2 linked regions of the Homo sapiens genome follow. The protein of the gene in region 1 purifies or fractionates together with the protein of each later gene. This does not show direct contact. Each region holds a gene or a part of one and is shown in the gene's direction. Other genes may lie near its edges.

Region 1 (6,987 bases):
CTGTAATCCTGGCACCTTGGGAGGCCAAAGGGGGCAGATCACTTGAGGTCAGTAGTTTGAGACCAGCCTGGCCAACATGGTGAAATTCCGTCTGTACTAAAAATACAAAAATTAGGGCCGGGCACGGTGGCTCATGCCTGTAATCCCAGCACTTTGGGAGGCCAAGGCAGGTGGATCACGAGGTCGGGAGATAGAGACCCTCCTGGCTAACACGGTGAAACCCCGTCTTTACTAAAAATGCAAAAAAATTAGCCAGGTGCGGTGGCGGGCGTCTGTAGTCCCAGCTACTCTGAAGGCTGAGGCAGGACAATGGCATGAACCTGTGAGGCGGAGCTTGCAGTGAGCCAAGATTGCGCCACTGCACTCCAGCCTGGGTGACAGAGCAAGACTCCGTCTCAAAAAAAAAAAAAAAAAAAAATTAGATTGGTGAGGTGGTGGCTGCTTGTAGTCCCAGCTACTGGGGAGGCATGAGAATTGCTTGAACCTGGGAGGCAGAGGTTGCAGTGAGCTGAGATCGTGCCACTGTACTCCAGCCTGGGCAACAGAGCGAGACTCTGTCTCAAAACTAACTAAATAAATCAATAAATAATAAAAGAAAATAAAAGGGCACACAGTCAAAACTCAATCTCCCTTCCACCTCTGTTCCCAAGTCTCCAGGTTTCCTTCCCCAAAGATAACCTGATTATCAGTTTTTTGGGTATCCTTCCAGAGGAATTATTTCTTTTCTGTTTCAAAGGAAGGAAAGAAGGAAGGTAAGAAGGAGGGAAGAGCGGAAAGGAGGAGAAAGCAACCCCATATAAATATTTATTGGTCTGAGCATGAAAAAAAAATATGAGGAAAAACATTCACACACGCACCAAGCTCTTAACCGTGGTTACCTCAGGGCATGGGCAGGGGAACTTAACTTTCTTTAATACACTTCTGGACTATTTGTCTTGTTACAACAGGTATAAACTACTTTATAATTTACAAATTTCCCAAAAAGTAAAAAATAAAAGAAAATTAGGAGAGCAGGAATCAATCAACATTAGTATAAATATAACAAGATAAATTATATTCTAAGAAATACTAGCAAGTTAAACTAAAGTAATGTACTGAGAGATTTCAGTTGGTGAGAAGATAAACTGAAAAATGAAAGCTGGAGAATTTAAAAAACTGTTAGCATCTCCCAAGCCCTGACTGGGGCAACGAGAGGCTGCCTAGGGCTTAACTCTCAGCTGGCCACCTTTCTCCTTATATTGCAACATAACTTCTAAGATTTTTTTTTTTACTCACTGCCTCTTCCTTTTTAGTTATCATACATTTATTTTTAGCATAGCACCCCAATTTCACATCATGTACATTTTCCAAAGTTGGAGCTTGTTAACCTACTATGCTCTCCACAGACTTTTCAACAAGTGTGAAAAAGAGGCAATAAGGTTGGCTTGAGTATACAAGTCACAATCCAAATACAGGATATCCTCGGAGATTTATTTATGTTTAGGATGAATATACATAAGGTGCCCAATGCTAAGCAGATGAATGAGACTCTGGCTGAGTAAAATATGAACACCTGGTTAGCACATGATCATGAAAAGACAGAAGGCATCCAATATATAGTTTGGTGTTATTCATTTTATGCTTCAGTGTACCTGCAGTGAAAAATATACATTTTACTTTCTTTTTTTTTGAGACGGAGTCTCGCTGTCACCCAGGCTGGAGTGCAGTGGCGTGATCTCGGCTCACTGCAGGCTCCGCCCTCCAGGGTTCACGCCATTCTCCTGCCTCAGCCTCCCAAGTAGGTGGGACTACAGGCGCCCGCCACCTCGCCCGGCTAATTTTTTGTATTTTCAGTAGAGACGGGGTTTCACCGTGTTAGCCAGGATGGTCTCGATCTCCTGACCTCGTGATCCGCCCGCCTCAGCCTCCCAAAGTGCTGGGATTATAGGCGTGAGCCACCGCGCCCGGCCATACATTTTACTTTCAAGGTTAAAATAGGCCAGGCGCGGTGGCTCATGCCTGTAATTTCGGCACTTTGGGAGGCCGAGGCAGGTGGATCATCTGAGGTCAGGAATTCGAGACCAGCCTGGCCAACATGGCGAACCCCATCTCTACTGAAAATACAAAAAAATTAGTTGGGTATGGTGGCACATGCCTGTAGTCCCAGCTACTTAGGAGGCTGAGGCAGGAGAATCGCTTGAACCTAGGAGGCAGAGGTTACAGTGAGCCAAGACCATGCCACTGCACTTCACCCTGGGCGACAGAGCGAGACTCTGTCTCAAAAAAAAAAAAAACATAACTTGGCTGACCCAATCTCCATACAATGGGGTTATCACATGAAATGTTCCAGACCCACGAACTTCCTGAAAGAGCTTTAGAATCTTGTCCCGTTATCCAACAAAGGGCTTTAGGAAGTACCAGTACCCGAAGGTTTCCTTATTGTAATCCCCAAATTCCAATTCAAGCCCTTTTAAAGTCGGGGTCCTCCGGTCTTCAGAGTCATACATCTTTCTCAAGCTTCCCCCAGCCATCAAATTAGCTTACAACAAGACAGAAGAATTCACAAAACATGAAAATAAGCATTCCCCAATTGTTGAGAGCAGAGTATGGCTTCTGCAACTAGAACAAGTTCTCACAGTCAAAACCTTGTAATGTCATACTCAAGTGAGATTGACAGTGAAAAATAAAAAAGGAGAAACCCTGCAATGCCTTTTAGAAAACGTTCCTATAGCATTGTGTGTTAGTAAATGTAAATAACTATACAAGCCTAAAAACAACTATGTACCCGGAACATCTTGCTCACACCAACAGACTGCTGACAGTTCCTTTCCTTGTAATTATTAGTGACATGGCTTTTTTAGAAAAAAAAGAGACAGAAAGAAATTCTGAAATTCTGAAATTTTTGAACTGATTAAAGAATCCTCGGATTCTGGCCAAGCCTCTCTTAGCCATTCTTTGCCTCTATTGTTCTCTTAGCTTACAGAACCACTGAAAATGTCCCTACTGGAGTTAACTCTGCAGTCCTAGTAGACATATAGTGTAGCCGTTAGTGGAAACTGACATAAACCGCCCTAGATTTCAAACCGGTCTCTGCTTTGTAGGTAGCTGTGTGAGCCTGAGCAAGTCCTCTCTGTGTCTTGGTTTCCTCTCCTGTAAATGAATACCTAATCAGAACTAACACATATAAACTGCTTACCCATACCAGTCATTGTTCATTAATCCTTACAACAACCCCTAGGAGGAAAAAATTATAATCTCTGTTTTATAAAGCAACTGACACACAGAGAGGTTGAGTGACTTCCCCAAGGTCCCACAGCTGGTAAGCTGCAGAGCCAAGAATCTTACACAGGTTCAAGAGTCCAGATTCAAGTCCCCACACCCACACAGCCTCTGTCAATGAGGACATACGTACTTAGGGCCGTTTTGAGGATTACATGAGAACGTCTGTAAAGCCCAGTACTTGACAAGTGCCTGAGAGATAGCAACTGTGGTTGTTAGAATTTTTTACCTTCTGCACTGGGAAACCATCAAGGCTTTTTGGTTAGGCAGGAAAAAAAAATGGGTTGGAGGCAAGAGGAGGAGGAGGGAAGCGCCAGGGGAGGAAGACAGAGAAGTGGCACGTGAAAGGGAGAAAAGGGGCAAACCAGAGGAGAGGCAGGGAGGGGCGGCGGGGGCGCACTGAACATTTAGGAAGCAAGATGTCTAGCAGGCTGGGCCTTGAGAGAACAGTAACTGTTTCGCAACTGAAAGTCGCTACTCGAGCCTTGCCAACTGGGGAGACTATGCCCATGATATCCGCGGCCTCGGACCCCGGACCCTCCAGGCCCTCGCGCCCCACCCCCGACCAGCCTCGGGCCAGGCTAGGGCGTAGACGGGGCTTCCCGTCCCTCACGCGGGCCCGCCCCATGCCGGGCGGGGCCTGGGGCCCGCCACCTCCGCCCGTGGCCGGAGAGCCCCAGGCCCGAGCCACGCGGTCTTCCGGGCCCGGGTCGGGGCTCGATGGCTACGTGGAGGCGGGACGGCCGACTGACAGGCGGCCAAAGGCTGCTGTGCGCTGGGCTGGCGGGGACGCTCAGCCTCAGCCTCACCGCGCCCCTGGAGCTCGCCACCGTGCTGGCCCAGGTTGGCGTCGTGCGAGGCCACGCCCGGGGACCGTGGGCCACAGGGCACCGGGTGTGGCGGGCAGAGGGGCTCCGGGCCCTGTGGAAGGGGAACGCGGTGGCGTGCCTGCGCCTCTTCCCCTGCAGCGCCGTGCAGCTCGCCGCCTACCGCAAGTAAGAGCCGGGCGGGGCCGGGGAACCGGGAGACCGGACGGGGGTGGGGTGGGGGAGCCGCGGCCCGACGCCGCCCTGCTGCCTGGACTCGGGGCCCTGGAGTAGGGACGGCCCCCTTGTCGATCACCTGGGGACCCCTCGGGGCGGTGGGCCACCTCTATGGCCCCCAGAGTGCAGCCCCAATGCTTTTCACGTTCTCTTGGGGTTACCGCCCTGCAAGATGCAGTTTTGTGGTCCGCAGCCCTGGTCCGAGAGGCTTTCCGGATTGGACCGGGCGAGGAGGTGGAATGCAGCAAAGGATTTGGAGGAAAGGAATGAAAAGCTCTCCAGAGAGATGAGTCCTAACCATTTCCACCGTCCTCCAATTTGGAAACTTTTGCTTAGGCTGGCTTAGGAAGAGAGAGACCCTTTTAAAGGTGTTTTTGTCTGTGTGACCCAAGCCCCGAGAAGAAAGTGCTTGGTGTGGGGAAAGGACCCGATCCATCGATACGAAAAGGCCGCAGATTTTTGCCCACACATCTCCCCAACTTAAATGAAGCTTGACTTCAGGCTCCGACAGAGGCTGCAGCTTCCCCTCCCCAAGCTGAGAACGGCCCCCTCAGCCTACCGCTTCACCCCACTGGCCTCATTTATTTGGGCCTTTTCCACCTTCTCCCACATCAACAGCTGCTCCTTAGGAAAAGATCTAAAGGTGTAAATGCAGCCTTAAAGCTTCCACCGAGCTCAGAGGTACCTGCATTTGAACTGGAAACCAAGCCTGAAAGAATGAATTGGTAGTGATGGCATTTCAGGAAGCAGAGATGTTTCTGTATTGGGGGGACGGTCCCTGTGTTCCTCATTCAGTGGGCACAGTGGCATCTTTGATATCGCCTTGGCTCTGAATTAGACAAACAGCCCACATTTGGGAGAGTCGGTCTTGACCGCATAGTTTAGTCTTGGCGGCTAATAGTCAAAGGATTTTGCCTTGACACTGTCACTCACCTGGGAGGCCAGAGGTGGAAGGCTCACCTGGCAGCCGACAAGCCGAACGGAATCATCCTTATTACCTAGGCCTCTAGGCCAGTACTCATTTTGCCTCTGCCTGGAAATAGAGTTCCCTTCTCTTCCTCTGCAGAGGGACTCATGGGTGGGACCATGACATTTAGTTAAGGCCCTTTTTCCTCCCCACCTCTGCTTGCCCTCATCAACATCTGGCCTGCAGTCTGTAAACAGTTCTCCTCTGAGTCTTAATGACTCAGTTTCTCCCCCACTTCACCCTCTTCTCTACAAAGTAGTGTGGAAATCTTCCTTTGGATGGGATAAAATATGTCCAGAGGGGTGGGGGGCAGAACTTCAAAGGCTGGTTTAAGTATTGTGGCTCTTCTGCTAAGCACCTAGTATATGCACATTAGATTTTTTAAGCTCCTGCCTCCTGCCCTGTAAGGTCCATAGGACAGGAAGCATTGTGCCTGTTTTACAGATGCAGAATTGGGCTCAGAGTGATGACACCTCTTGTCAGTGACCGAGCTGAGCTCCACTACCTGGCCTTCTGACTCCAAATCTCATAGTCTTTCTGTTACATCATGCTGCCTCCCTGCATCCATTTGACACTAATTTAGTCAGGCTACATTAAGTCCCCACTGTGTGCACGATGCTGAGGACAATGCCAGGATGGAAGGGGCATGGTCCCTGTGCCCCAGGAGCTTACAGAGTAATAGAAGAGTAAGACTAATATGTCCATGACCATAACACACAAGGTAGCATGTGATTGTCATGGATAATGTGCTCTAGAAATGTACCCTTCTGATGAGCGATGAGGAGGAGAAAATGTGAAGACTTCATAGAGGAGAAAAAAATTTGAGTTTGGCATTGGGAGAATGAGGAGTCTGCTGGGCAGAGATGGAGAGAAAGATACTGCAGTTGATGTCAGCAAATGCACAGAGGTGGGAAGGCAAGCAGCACAACAGGAAGTCCAACCAGAAAAGCAGGTTGGAATGAGATATTAGAGGGTTGGATTAAGGGATTTGGACTTGACTTGGTATCCAAGGGTAGCTGTGGGAGGTTTTTGTGGGGGGTGGGGGGAGGTGTGTTGTGATTAAAGCAATTCAATGGAAATGATCGTCACATCGTGGCAGAGTAAGATGACTAGAGAGGAGGAAGAGTGGAGACAGCAGGGCCAGTTAGGAACCTGTTGCACTAGTCCACATAGCAGCTGAGGGCACCGGCAATAGGTGACCATGGGAGCAGAGAGGAGGAGATGTCTGGGAGAACGAGAACAGAGACTTACCTGGGCTAGGTTTGCTAGGAATTTTTTTTCCCCTACAGGATTATTTTCTTTCTGAAAACTAAAAGGAAGTATTTTGGTGAATGGCAAGGCATAGTTGGAAAGCAAAGTGTTTGATTAATCGCGATGCCATCCTTCCTACATCAACATGATACTCTTGATTCATCATTATACTGATTCATTTCTACTCTTTTCTGACCATGAATTTGCAAAACAGTTGGCTGGGGGCCTGTGATCATGGGTTTGAACAAAACATAAACATCCAGAATGTTCAGGGAATGGGGTAGTTAAGTGACTTGTCCACAAATGCAATTAATGGAAGAGCTGGAACTTGAAGCCAAGTCTTCTGGCTCCTTAGTTCAGGTCTCTGTCTACCATTGCACAGCAGAAATATCTGCTTAGTTGGATTGACGATCAAGAGTCCACTCAGTAGTCTGTTGGGAGCTAGGTTATTGTAATGGGTGGCTTTCA
Region 2 (7,900 bases), on another chromosome or scaffold:
GACCAGCTTAGCCAACATGGTGAAACCCCATCTCTACTAAAAATACAAAAAATTAGCCGGGCGTGGTGGTGCACGCCTGTAGTCCCAGTTACTCAGGAGGCTGAGACAGGAGAATCGCTTGAACCTGGGAGGCTGAGGTTGTAGTGAGCTGAGATAGCACTACTGCGCTGCAGCCTGGGGGACAGAGCAAGACTCCATCTCTAAATAAATAAATAAATAAAATTGCCCATTTCTTTGCACTCCTGCCAGCATTGAATATTAGAACCTGAAATATATTTTCTAATTTATAAGGTGAGAATATTGTGTATTATTTAACATTTTTATTTTTTAAATTACTAGGTAACCTAAACCCTTTAAAATATAATAACACACACTTACACAGATATACGCATGGCTAATTACTAACCACTTTAATTTTCTCTTTAAGGAAATTTTCCCACAGACTTATTAGGGTTTTCTTATTAATCTGTGTGTACTCCTAAAGATGCAATTAAATCTTGGATTTGTTATGCAGAGTTCTGTCATTTCAGATTTTTTTTTGTCTTTTAGAATTCTGTTTGCAATATTTTTAGTTACCAGAATTTTAAAAATTTTTATGTAATCTAATCTAATGGTCATTTCCTTCCTGAGTATTCTGTTTCTTTTCTTTCCTCACCTTGAGATCACATAAATATTTGCCTATATGTTCCCCTAATTTTAAAATTTTTTTTTGTTTTTTTGAGACAGGATCTCTCTCTGCCTCCAACCTGGAGTGCAGTGGCGCAATCACAGCTCACTGCAGCCTCAACGCCCCCAGGCTTAGGTGATCCTCCCATCTCAGCCTTGTGAGCTGCTGGGACTAAAGGCATGCACTACCACATCTGGGTAATTTTTGTATTTTTTTGTGGAGACGGGGGTCTCATTATGTTGCTCAAGCTGGTCTTGAAATTCTGGGCTCAAGCAATCCTCCTGCCTCAGCCTCCCAAAGTGCTGGGATTACAGGTGTGAGACACCACGCTAGACCTTAAAATTATTTAATGTAGCTAGAACATCTTTCAGCATATAATGACAGGTAAGGGCTTAACTTGATTATCTTTTCAAATTACTACGTTTCTTACCTCCATTTATTGAGACTCCATCTCTTTTTCATTTATTTTTGATGACTTTTATCACATATGAAAGTGTACACTACCTTTTCCTGGGTTATATTGTTCTATTATGATACATTTCATCAGTAAAGCCTTAGACTATGTTTCAATAATAAATAGGTCAATTGCCCATATTTTTCTTCATTTTCTTAATTTTGTTAACTTTTCTCACCTATCATTTGTTCAATTTGTTCAGATACACTTTAAAATACTTTCATTTTAGCCTTACAGGGTAGGCGTTAATAGCCTCATTATATAGATGAGGAACTGAGGCTCAAAAAGGATAAACAGCTTGAGGTAATAACAAATCATGTCTTTTACATCTCCCCTGTCAGATCCAAACTGCTGTCGATTTTTTAGTAAAGTTATGAAATTTTCTTACCTTTCTTTCTCCTTTCCTGTCTGCCTCCCTCTAGTGGTCATGATATATATTACAATATAGTACAGTTTCTGAAGTCTATTTATTTATTTATTTATTTTTGAGACGGAGTCTCGCTCTGTTGCCCAGGCTGGAGTGCAGTGGCGCGATCTCTGCTCACTGCAAGCTCCGCCTCCCGGGTTCACGCCATTCTCCTGCCTCAGCCTCCGGAGTAGCTGGGACTACAAGGCGCCCGCCACCACGCCTGGCTAATTTTTTGTATTTTTAGTAGAGATGGGGTTCACCGTGTTAGCCAGGATGGTCTCGATCTCCTGACCTCGTGATCCACCCGCCTCGGCCTCCCAAAGTGCTGGGATTACAGGCATGAGCCACTGCGCCTGGCTCTGAAGTCAATTTTATACAGTAATTAATATACTCCTTTATAACATGAAAAGACATAGCTTTTCTTTTTAGCTTACTTTAAAATTCTTAACCTATATAAAGTTCATTAATATTTCTTTAATATTTGGGGGTCATGTATTATCAGGATTTTCTTAGCAAAGACCAGCCTCAGAAAACATTTATGAAAAAGTCAAGTGACATTACAGTGAAATTTTAAAAATTTCATAAGTTTTAAAACTGTAACAATACAAAGACCCTCCAGATATTTCTTTGTTCATTTCTTTTCCTATGGACATTATCTAAGTACTTTCATAAATAACTATCTTTATTTAGTTATTTTTGAGACAGACCCTGTCACCTAGTCTGGAGTGCAGTGGCGCAATCTCGGCTCACTGCAACCTCCACCTCCTGGGTTCAAGCAACTCTCCTAGCTCAGCCTCCTGAGTAGCTGGTATTACAGGCATGTGCCACCACGCCCAGCTAATTTTTGTATTTTTGGTAGAGATGGGATTTCGCCATGTTGGCCAGGCTAGTCTCGAACTCCTGACCTCGGGTGATCCGCTTACCTTGGCTTCCCAAAGTGATGGGATTACAGGCATGAGCCACCGGGCCTGGCCAAATAACCATCTTTAAATTTCCCCCTGTAAACCATTTCTTTTCCTCTGACCTGGCTTCACTGTCCTTTCTCACTTTTTAGTCCCTTTGTGCATTCAGTTGTCATAAAGGTGCATAGGCCAGGGGGACATCAGGGCAGTGGACCAGCCTGAGCTAACTTTCTGGCCAGGTCTGTGCCAGGCCACAGGAGGGCCACCTGATCATAATTCCCATAAAGATTTAGGACATGCTAGCAGGGGCTGGCCTCACATCCCTAACTGCCTGTTGGTTGAAGCCTTCTCAGTCTCATTTTCTTCCTTGTTTATTTTCTGCTTCTATTTTTCTGCCTTTTTCTTTTCCCCTTCTTCCTTGCCAACCCCATCATCCTTCAATCTCATCCCTCTCATTTCTTTTTCAACTGTAAGAAAAGGCACCATAAAAGTTTAACCAAGCAAAAAGAATAATAAAAAGAAAAATAATTCTAGGAAGCATTTATCAACATTTATCAAAATTATCATTTATCAAAATCAAGGGAAAGTTTTTTTTTTCTCTTGATCTGATTTCCTTAAAGGGCCGGGCGTGGTGGCTCATGCCTTTAATCCCAGCACTTTGAGCGGCCCAGGGGAGAGGATCACTTGAGCCCAGAAGTTTGGGACTACCGTGAGAATTAGACCCTGTCTCTACAAAAAGAAAAATAAAAAATTAGCCAGGCATAATGGTTCGTGCCTGGAGTCCCAGCTTGGGAGGCTGAGGCAGGAGAATCACTTGAGCCCAGGAGTTGGAGGCTGCAGTAAGCTACAATTTCACCACTGCACTCTAGCCTGGGCAACAGAACCAGGCCCTGTCTCAAAAAATAAAATAAAATGAATTCCTTAAAGACAGCAGCTGCTATATTACCTGTCACCTATAGGTAGATGTTTAATATTACCATTTATTATGTCACTTCATGATAAATGCGTTCATATTTAACACAACATGAGACAAAAATGTAAGAGGGAAAATAAAAGAACATAACCAGAAAGCTTAGGTTTATTATTCACTGAGGATTAAGGATTGTCAGAGTTGATTGTCTCCTGGATTTTGTTCAGAAAGAGAGGATAATAATACTGACCCAATTAAGTAGCATGTTGGGTAGATTAAAGTGCTTTGTAAACATTAATTAAAGATGCAGGGAGTTAGGTGAGGCCAATGTGTTATTAGAGGAAAAGTTTTCTTCCCTTTAATCAGGTATCTCTTTCTGGGGAGGGCAAAGAAATGACCTCAGGACTAAGGCATTGGGGCTCAACCCTGAGTGGGGCCAGTGACTCAGTCATTCTGTGCAACCATTTCCTTCTTAGTTTTCTGTAAAATGGGAAGCAACACAAACATTTTGGGAATCTAGGTTGTTACAACGTTTGTCATTTGAGTATATAACAAATCCTACAATTAATACAACCCCATAACTCTTGCTTTCTCCCTGCCTACTGAGTTAAACCCAGTAACATTAACTTCCACCAACTTACAAAAGCCTTCCGCAACCAGCTATTAACCTTCGGAGATATTTCCACGGTGATAGCCTGAAGAAGAAAATGCAACGAGCCATGGGGTCAAAAATTCTCCCATGAGTTTCTTCAGCTGTCTGAACCTCAGCTTTCCTGCTCTGTAAAATGGGGTTAAGAAACCAGAAAACCATTTTAAGGATTAGATGAAATAATGTATGTGGTGTATGCACATTAAATGCTGTGTCTGAGGGTACAGGTATGCAATAAGTTGCATCAGCATTATTAAGTATAAAATAGCCTCTCAAAGCTGACCATAATAAAAAACAAAAGAAAAAATTAAAGGCCAGGTGCAGTGGCTCAGGCCTGTAATCCCAGCACTTTGGGAGGCTGAAGTGAGAGGATCGCGTGAGCCCAGGAGTTCGAGACCAGCCTGGGCGATATAATGAGACCCCCCCCCCCACCCACCCATCTCTACAAAAAATTTTAAAATTAGCTGGGTGTGGTGGCATGCACCTGTGGTACCAGCTACTCGGGAGGCTGAGATGCGAGTATCACTTGAACTTGGGAGGTGGAGGTTGCAGTGAGCCAAGATGGTACAACGTGCACTCCAGCCTGGGCGACACAGCAAGACCCTGTCTCAATAAAAATTAGATTAAATTAATGTCCCATCTCTTGCAAGCTTCAGACACACATCCCTATTGCTTTTCTCCGCGTGGGTCGCTCGGCGATGGGGTTGGGGATTTTCACGGTGCTGTCCCCCAACTCGAACTTCACACCTTGACCGAGGACCCCCGGGAGGCGGCCGCGAGGTCCCCCAGCGCGGCGGGGCCCGGCCCTTTAAGCGCCGCGGGCGCGCGCAGTGCGTGCCTAAGGAGTGCGAGTTCGGGCGGCGCGAGCGCGCGGCGGCAGTAGAGCGCGCGCGGGTGGGCGCGCACAGGGAGAGCGCGCGGCGGGGCGTCCCGGAACAGTCTGCGCCAGACGGGCGGCGGCGTGAGGGCTCCGGGTCGCTGGCGGCGTGGACACCTGAGTCCCGGGGTAGGGGTCTCCCGCGAGGTGAGTGGGGCCCTAGGACTCCGGGCAGGGCTGGAGCGACGGGAGGGCGTCCTGGCGGCGGTGGCGGCGCTGGGCTCTGGCTGGGACGCCGGCGGGTCGGGCAGAGAGGGGGCGCCGGACCCTGCCTTGGCGCGCTCCTCGCTCTGACTAGGGGAGCCCGGCGCCGCCGCCGCAGAGGCCACCCGGTGCCCGACCCCCGACCCCGGGGCGTCGCTGCCTCCTCGGGGACCTCGGAGTCGGGGCGCGGCGGGGAGCGCGCTGGGTTCCGAGTCTGGGGCTATCCTGGGGGCTCAGGGGTGGAGGCGGGTTTCCCAGCCTTGGGCGCAGAGGGTCCCCGCTGTCCCCACCGTCCGTCCCCCAACCCGGGACCCCTGTCCTTTGCGCCGTGGGACCCCATGCGGCCTCGGGGAGAGGGTGCGGGTCCGACACGGCGGGCGGAGCCACCTGTTCCACCCGGGCCCCCAGGTCCTGGAATCACGCGGGGATGTGCAGGGTCTGCCCAGCCCAGCGCGGCGGGAGGGACTAAAATAGAGGAGAAAATGTGGCCCGTGTGATGAAATTGAACAAAAGGCAGTAAAATAAACTCCAGTATTTCTCCAAGGCTTTGAAAGTTTCCCAGTATTGTTTTACGGAGTCTAAATTTAAGCATGTAGTTGTTTGGTGTATTTTTTTTTTCCTTAACCACAGGAACTAACCTCAGAAAACTTTTAACTCTACCAGAACCTAGTGCGTGCAGAGCAGAAAAGTTAAAGTGAGTGAAGGAAAATGAGTGTGTGTGTGTTTTTCCACCCTAAACAGAGTAAAACGTTCAGATCTGTAGGAAGAAGGTTCTTTCTGGCTCCAATTTTAACGGAGAACATTTTTTAAAAATCGGTATTTCTGAAAGGTATCGAAAGACCAAACCAGGCGTACGTGGAAACTTGAGGGAAATACTCATAGGAGAAAACTTTATTAAAAATACTTTTTACATTATTTTTTAAAAACACTACATAAAAGTGCCCCAGCATGCACTAAAAAGTTTGCCCTCCAAGTTCCGTGTCTGAATGTTACTGATTGTTTTTCTAGGTGGAGGAGGTATTTTCGTTCATGAAGCCAATGTGGAAATACAAACAAATGCCCTATTGACTTGGGATTGGGTGGGAAGGATGGAAGTTGTCTAAAATCTTTCTTGCCAAAGTTGACAGCGTATGTATGGAATCTTGTGTGTTTTCTTGTCCAGACTAGTAATAGCCATGTTAAAGCGACTGGATTATATTCCTTGGTAACAGCACTTCAAATGAGCTTTCTTTGAAAATTTTAGATGCTGATGATTTAAAAGTAACACATTTTCTCCATTACTAGAAATCAGAAATCCAAAATTAGAGTGATATAGTGGAGCGAAGGCTGGAAAGAGGAGCGATGCTTTTAGGAAGGTCTGAGCGTGTTTGAATCTGTGGTTGCCGGGGGTGGGGGAGTTGCCCATTAATTCATTCAGGAATATTTGTAGACTGACCACCTACAGCGCGCAGAGCCGTGACTGGTCGTCCAGCATACAGTCATTTCTAGATAACAGCCACATGGCCCAAACTGATTAAAACCAGATCAAGCAAGCCTTCATCGGCAGCTGAAGAGATACCTGGCCTTGGTTCCAAAGTTCTTAGACACCCAAGGCGCCCAGAGTTGGCACTGTGTGTTGATTTGGAAGATCATCTCAGATAACTCCAGGAGTGGAGCCTGGAAACCTGAAGGGGGAGAGAGGAAGGGCCTGCGTAGAGCAGAGCTGAGAACAGGGGAGCCTCTAGAACTTAGAAGTTCAAGTGCATCTTATCTGCAGTGTTGTGGGGCAGCTGCCGGTGGCACAGAGGCCATTCGGGAGGTGCCAGGGGAATCCTAGGAGCATCCCAGAACCTGAGCTCTTTCCTTTGACGGTGAAGGCCATCGTTGCGTTTCACTTTCCTTTGCACTTGGTGGCTTGCTTCCTAGGTGCCTCTGTGCTCTAAGAAGAGGGCCTTGCAACTCCGCCCCTGATTGACTGCAGCCGTCCCCGCTCCACTCTGAGGGGTCTCCTGGCCACCATAGGAAAGCCTGTGTTCATGGAGGCACTGCCCTCTGCACGGGTTATGTCCAGCCAGTGGCATCAACAGCCTCTGTCTGCGGAACTCACAGTGAAGGTGCCGCTTTCCATAATGCCCTTGTCCCCTTTCTAGACTGGCAGCATTCATCTTGAAACCTAAGAGTATTTTAAGAAAGTTGGTGCTAGGTTTCTAATCTGTGCATTCAGGATTGGCAGGGAAGGACTGTATGGGGAGAGCATTCTGCCTTGTCGGACAGGGATGGGAGAGCTCTTCGTGAACGTGTCTCTTCGGACTAGGTATTGCCAGAGACTGTAGCACTGTGAAGAGTTCATGCTGTTTATCTTTTTTATTATAGTCAAATACATAGAACATAAAATTTACCGCTTTAAAGTGCACAAATCAGTGGCATTAAGTACATTCCATTCCCAATGTTATGCAATCATCACCACTATCAAGTTCCAGAACTTTTTCATCACTCCAAAAGGAAACCCATTAAGCAGACGATTCCCATTGCCCTCTCCCAACCTCTGGCAGCCACTGATCTCCTTCTGTCTCGGTAGACTTGCCCCTTCTGGATGTTTATACAGATGGAATCTTAAAATCTGTGGCCTCTTGTGTCTGGCGTCTTTGACTTAGCACAATGTTTTTCAAGGTCCGTCCGTGTCGCGGCGTGTATCGTTGCTTCCCTCCTTTTTATCGCCGAATAATGTTCCATTGTGTGGACAGATCGCATTCTATTTACCCATTCATCAGATGAATGACTTTGGGTTGTTTCCACCTTTTGGCTATTGTGAATAGTACTGCTATGAACCGTTGTGTACAAGTTTTTGT

The links.
Region 2: the proteins of SLC25A43 (region 1) and PROSER2 purify together in Homo sapiens (affinity purification with mass spectrometry; 2 studies listed by BioGRID and IntAct, with this or other methods). This does not show direct contact.

What each region holds. Positions count from the first base shown.
Region 1 is NC_000023.11:119,395,426-119,402,412, forward strand, and holds the start of SLC25A43 (solute carrier family 25 member 43), read left to right. Parts: upstream 1-3,910; 5' UTR 3,911-3,978; coding exon 3,979-4,253; intron 4,254-6,987.
Region 2 is NC_000010.11:11,818,456-11,826,355, forward strand, and holds the start of PROSER2 (proline and serine-rich protein 2), read left to right. Parts: upstream 1-4,900; 5' UTR 4,901-5,015; intron 5,016-7,900.